Regions from separate parts of the Homo sapiens genome. Here region 1 is linked to region 2. The links come from fine-mapping of genetic effects on gene expression. A gene starts in region 2. The other region holds a variant in brackets. All regions are shown on one strand. Distances are from middle to middle.

What was found. PIP is the estimated chance that this variant, and not a neighbour inherited with it, causes the effect.
Region 1: its variant is the best candidate, but not a certain one, in a credible set for the expression of SLC1A1 in lung (TOPMed, PIP 0.62).

The regions. Positions count from the first base shown.
Region 1 is chr9:4,592,839-4,595,746 of GRCh38, reverse strand. It overlaps a transcript of SPATA6L not described here. Among named protein-coding and RNA genes, the nearest start is that of PLPP6, 68 kb to the left of the region's middle. The variant A/G (reference allele first, on the strand shown) is at 1,544.
Region 2 is chr9:4,489,056-4,491,946 of GRCh38, reverse strand. It overlaps SLC1A1 (solute carrier family 1 member 1), which reads right to left and starts at 1,479. Exons shown (of 12, transcript NM_004170.6): 1 at 1,177-1,479. The coding sequence starts at 1,267. It also overlaps a transcript of GLIS3 not described here. RefSeq lists a silencer at 1,252-1,681 and an enhancer at 1,832-1,881.

The DNA of each region.
Region 1 (2,908 bases), 100 kb before region 2:
CAAGATACTGTTGCTTCTGTATGTTTCAGGAGGTTAGAAACAGTGGGGTATTGGTGTTGGAGGCCCAGAACTTATTTTCAGCATTTAAAAAATAGGCAGACCAGGTAGAGAAGAGATTTGGGAGAGTGAGGCAACTGGGGAGAGTATAATGAAGCATATGTATATAGAGAAGAGGAAATGTCCTTTGGGGTATCTTCTGAAGTGTCCTAAATATTCAGGCGAGTATTTTCAACTTGTGCTGTAGACAATAAGAAGCCGTTAGAGTTTTGGAGCCAGAAAGCAAAGTATTAATCTGATGATCTTGTGCAGGATGGTTTGGGAGTAGGTAGAGGCTGGCGGTGGGGAGACTCTGACAAAGCCTTTGAAGAAGTCTGAAAATTAGGGCAATAGAACCTCAACTGAGTAGGAGAGTCACAGGAAAGAGAAGGGCTGATTAGACATCAGGGCTGGGAAGACATCATGAGACAACTTATTTTAGGGGTGCTTAAAAACCTGTGGGTGTATGGGGGAGGTACCTGGCCCTTTTAAGGAAGAAGTGGTTAAGTCCGGTGGCCTGGGCTTGTTACAAAGTGAAGGTGAACTACTTAGTCAGCAGAATGAGGTATTGATGGAGAGAATAATTGCCCTGCAGAAATAAGGACACAGTGTCCTTCATTTTGTGGATTCATATTCTTCATGATGTGTGAGGCAAGATGAACTCAACGACTAAGAGAACAAAATAGGAGCTCAAATGAAATCCTTTAGGGACTTTTCTTTTTGTGGTCTCTTTTTGGCCAGGGAGATAGAATAGGGAACACTTAGAATTACTAGGGGTCAAGGTGGGTGTTGAGAAGAATGGAGGCCTTGTCTGGGATTTTGTTTAGTATTTTTTTAATCCCTCTGAATCTTGTTCTTATCGTGAAGGCCTTATGGTTGTAAATAGAATTTAGAGGATTATCAAAATACAAGTTGTTTATTCAAGAATTACGTGGGAAGAGAAAATGCAGGAGTACACCATGTCCAGTGATTCATGTCTGGACAGAGGCTAAGTCTTGGGTCACTCGCTTCACAAAGAGGCATCACTGTTCACTCAGGGGCTCCCACCTGAATCCCAGAGCAGACGGATTCAAATAAATGCACCAACCTCTATAGACCTGCCTTGCAACCTCAAACCTCTTGGGGTCAAAAGCAAGAAGAAATGTTTATGATCCTAGATTGTAGGGGAAATAATGGTGATTTTTAAAAACACAATTCCCCGCTGGGCGCGGTGGCTCACACCTGTAATCCCAGCACTTTGGGAGGCTGAGGCAGGCAGATCATGAGTTCAGGAGATCAAGACCATCCTGGCTAACACGGTGAAACCCCGTCTCTACTAAAAAATACAAAAAAAGTTAGCCAGGCATGCTGGCGGGCGCCTGTAGTCCCAGCTAGTCTGGAGGCTGAGGCAGGAGAATGGCATGAACCCGGGAGGCAGAGCTTGCAGTGAGCTGAGTTCGCGCCACTGCACTCCAGCCTGGGTGACAGAGCGAGACTCCGAAAAACAAAAAACAAAAAACAAAAACCC[A/G]CAATTCCCAATCTGGGAAAGAGAGACTACAGAAAAGATTGATGAGATTGATTTTGGATAAGTTCAGTTTAAAAAGATGGTGGAAAAGCCAACAGAAAGTGGTCAGTAGAAGTTGGAGGTGGGGATCTGAGGTTTGGCTTGGAGATCAGGGCAGGAGAAACCAAGGGCAGCTGTAGACTTTGTGGATACACATTTTTGTTAATCATCTGCATAGAGATGGTAGTGGAATCCATAATATTGGAGGAGTATCTGGTGGAGAGAGGAAGACCAGAAGGATGTGAGCTTGTTCATTTATTCCACAAATATTTGAGGGGACCCTGTGTGTGTGGCACAGGGAGAGATGAGACCCACAGTAAGGGAGCAGCAGGAGGAGGTTACAAAGGTTGTGGAAGAGTGGTGGAAAACGGTCAGGCGGGGCAGAATCTGGTAATGTCTTGGAAGCCAAGGAAAAATAACTTAGTGGAATATAAAGCTAATCAACAGTGACATATGTTGCAGAAGAGTAAAAATTGATGACTGAGAAAATGCCTTTTGGATTTCATGAGCAGGGCACTGATGACCTCGGAGTTTCAGGAATGTTGTGGAAGCCCGACTGTAGGGGATTAGGTGTTTGTGAGTGGGGAGGAAATGGAGTCACAGTATAAAGAATAAAAAGCAGCCCCCAAAATTTGGCAAGAAAAGGAAAAGAGAAATAGGGTTCCAGTTTTTATCCTGACAACTCCCCATCCCTGGTTTTGGAAAAGAAAGGGATTTTGGGGAGAGTTGGGGTTTGAGTGAAAGATTTAAAGGTGATATAAGGGAGGGATACAATGATATTGTATACCATAAAGGAGGTGAGGCTGGGCAGCTAGATGAGGTGGGAGATAATCTAGACATATTTAAAATTAATTTTTGCTAGAATGGGAAAACAAACAGCAATTTGAAGGAGCAAATTTGGTTGTATCAAATAAAATGTCATGATTAGAAAGCTTGTAAAGAGGTGACGATTGGATACTGTCATGCATTTCCTCTTACTTTTTAGGCATTTTGAAGCATTATATCTTAATAGTTAGGAAAAGACTTGGAATCATGTGAGTCCCAGCTCTGTGAACTTGGGCAAAGTACTTAACCTCCCTAAGCCACAGTTTCCTCAACTGGGAAACAGATGGTAATATGACCTGCCTAATAGAAGTGTTAAGAAGAATGCATGAGACTATGCATGTAAAATATTTAGTACAATCTCAGCACATAGTTAGTGCTTGGTGTTAGCAGTGATTCTTTTTTTCTTAAACCACTTTATTCAGGTATGATTGGCATACTAAAGGTGTACATATTTAGCATGTACAACTTGGTGAGTTGTGAAACCATCACCAAAGTCTATGCCAT
Region 2 (2,891 bases):
GCCCTATCCCCACCCTGAGGGGAGGGGGCGGTTCGGAGGAGAAGCAAGCAACACCATATATTCTGAGATTTAGGAGCAGCAGTTGGAGAGGAAGGTACCTGAGGTTGGGAGGAAACAAGCTGTCCCCACTTGCCTTTTCAGCAAACACAGCTGCAGTTTCCAAGGGGAAGGTGGAGCCTGCCGAGGAATCCACATTCCTCAGAGGGTGCAACAGCCCTCACCTGCTGAGGAGCTATCACTGGGAAGGCGACAGATATGGCGCTAATCCCAAGGAAGTGCATCCCCGGGCCGGAGCTAGAAACACACAACCTTGGTAAAAAATCAGAATCTAAATAGGAATAACTCATACCTCTGAGCAATGGCTCAGACATCCACCTGGTCCAGTGATCTGTGAGGGGTGGATCACTTAAATACACCCTTGTTTAAAAACAGGCAAGGATGGCTTAAACATTATCTTAAATACAAAAACAACGTGGAGAGCAAGGAAGGCAGGAGAAGAGACGGCTGAGTTCTCTTAGCTCTCTTCCCCGGTGACCTCCCGCGGGCCACAGTGGCACATCCCAGAATTCAGGCACGAATCTGGCAGCTTTTCAGAGCCCGGGTGCAGGCAGTCGGCGCTCGCCGCGTGGGAAGGCACCTTTCCACGCACTGCCCAGGATGAGCGGCGACAGCGTTCTCAGCCTCCCTCCCCTAAGGGTCCGGCCCATCCCGGAGGCCAGGGTGCCTCTTCCAATTCGACTGAGAACTGTAATCCACACTCAATCTCTGCCCGCGCAGCGAGGCTGGGGGTGTGGGGTGAGGAAGGTGGCGGTGATAGGGGGAGATACGGTGCGGGATTAACAAAGAAAAAAATCGAACCCTGTTTTCAAACGAGCAGAACCAAGAGCTACTTGCTTCCCTTTCTACCCCCAAGCCCCTTTGATCATTTTGGGTAGAGCAGGAACCAGCAGCTCAAGGAGCACTCAAATGGGAGTCCCAGAGGAGCTTTGTTCTTGGTGTGCAGTAATTAGAGCGCTTGGGGGAAAGCCCCCGCAGGGGGCCCGAGGCTAAGGCCGAGGGGGCATCGAGGGACCCTGCATGGAGTGCGCCAGCGCCAAGCCCACCCTCAGCCGCACGCGGCCTGGGCGCAGAGAGCGCGTGAGGGTGCGCGCATCGCCCACCCGCCGCGCCGCTCACCTAGCACCACCGCGGCCACGGTGGACAGCAACACCCAGTTATTCTTCAGGAAGCGCTTCCACTCGCATCCTTTCCTCGCCGGTTTCCCCATGGCTGTCGCCGCTATTGTGCGCTGGGCTCGGCCGTGCGCGCGTGGGCTGGGCGACCCGGGGACTGCTGGCTGCTCGGCGGCGCGGCGAGATGCGGGTGCACAGGGGAGAGGTGAGAGCCGGCCGCTGCAGTCGCCGCCGTCACCACCGCCGTTGCCGCCGCCACCCGGGATCGCGCACCGCGCCCGCCGCCCTGCCAGCCCGGTAGTTTTGCGTGGCAGGCGCGCCCGGCTCCTCCTGCTGCCGCCGCGCTCTGCGGCGCCTGGGCCAACCAGCGAGGAAGGAGGGAGGAGCGGCAGGCCCGGGAAGGAGGGTGGGTGCGTGCGTGGGACGCCCGGGGTCCCTAGGGAGCAGGCGTGGTAGGGCGCCCAGCGCTGCGGCAGGAGCTGGGGCGGCCTCTCCGGGAACCCTGAGTCCCGCCCCACAGCCTTCCACTGGAGTCTGTCTCGCTTTCCACGCCTCACTCATGCTAGGGCTTTGGGTTAAGGGTTTTCTTCTGTCCCTAACCCAGAGAGGCGGAGCCACTGCCCTCCTGGGCGCGGACTTCATCCTGCACGTCTCCCTCTCCGTTCTCCACACCAGCTATTTCCAGCGCCGGCACCTGCAGAACGGGTGCCCTTTCAAGTCGGGGGAAGCTGATCCTGCCTTGGGTCCCTCTTGCTCGGCTACTCAGGCTGGGATGTGCCAGCAGCCGCGAAAGCCTGAAGCTTCTGGGAGGAGAGAAAGGAGTCCTGGGGCAGAACATGGCTTTGGAAACTTTCACGCGGAGCCTCCAGTGCCCCCACAGGGATTATTCTCCTCTTCGAGTCGCTGGAGGTGATTTGTCTGTGGACACTGGGCTTGGGAGTGTTCCCTGCACAAGGAGATGGTGATTTCTCTTAGAACTTTACTTCTGCTCCTTGGGACTTGCTCTGTGACCACAGGCCCTGGAGCATGGAGGCTTGGGGCAGTGATTAGAACTGAGAACCGGACCCGGGAGCCGCTCTGGGGAGAAAGTGGGCGGTCCATCCCCTAAGGTCCAACGGATTGGAAAGGCAAACACAGGAGAAACTAGGTTAGTGGTGCCAAATATATTTGGTGTTGCTAAGTGAATTTCTGATGCTCTTCCATTTTTCTACCCAATTTTTTCACTCTCACGTATACAATCTCTTTCCCTCCCTTTACCAAATCAGTACCTCCGCAGCTGTAAGCGGTCTTCTTATCAGCGTTCCTAAAGTTAAGTGAGCCTGGAACCCTTTTTGCTATTGTAGAATCTACTCTGATTGTGGGTAGGGAGAATTTCCCCTACTAGATTTTCTGATGACTAAATCCCCACAATTAGAGCTTCATCCCTTTGGTGTAAATTGATACAAGCATCTTTTAAGCGATAATAGATTAAGATTTACAACCCTGTAGACTTTAGTATGAATGAGTTTATCAGCTCTTTATAGAAAGTAAACTTTGAGAGAAAGAAGGTTAGAGGGATTTTAAGGTCGTTGGGTGTCCGAGGAAGATCTGAAGAAATGTCAGAAGGGGACCCGGGTGCGGTGGCTCTTGCCTGTAATCTCAGGACTTTGGGAGTCCGAGGCGAGCGGATCACGAGGTCAGGAGATTGAGACCATCCTGGCTAACACAGTGAAACCCCGT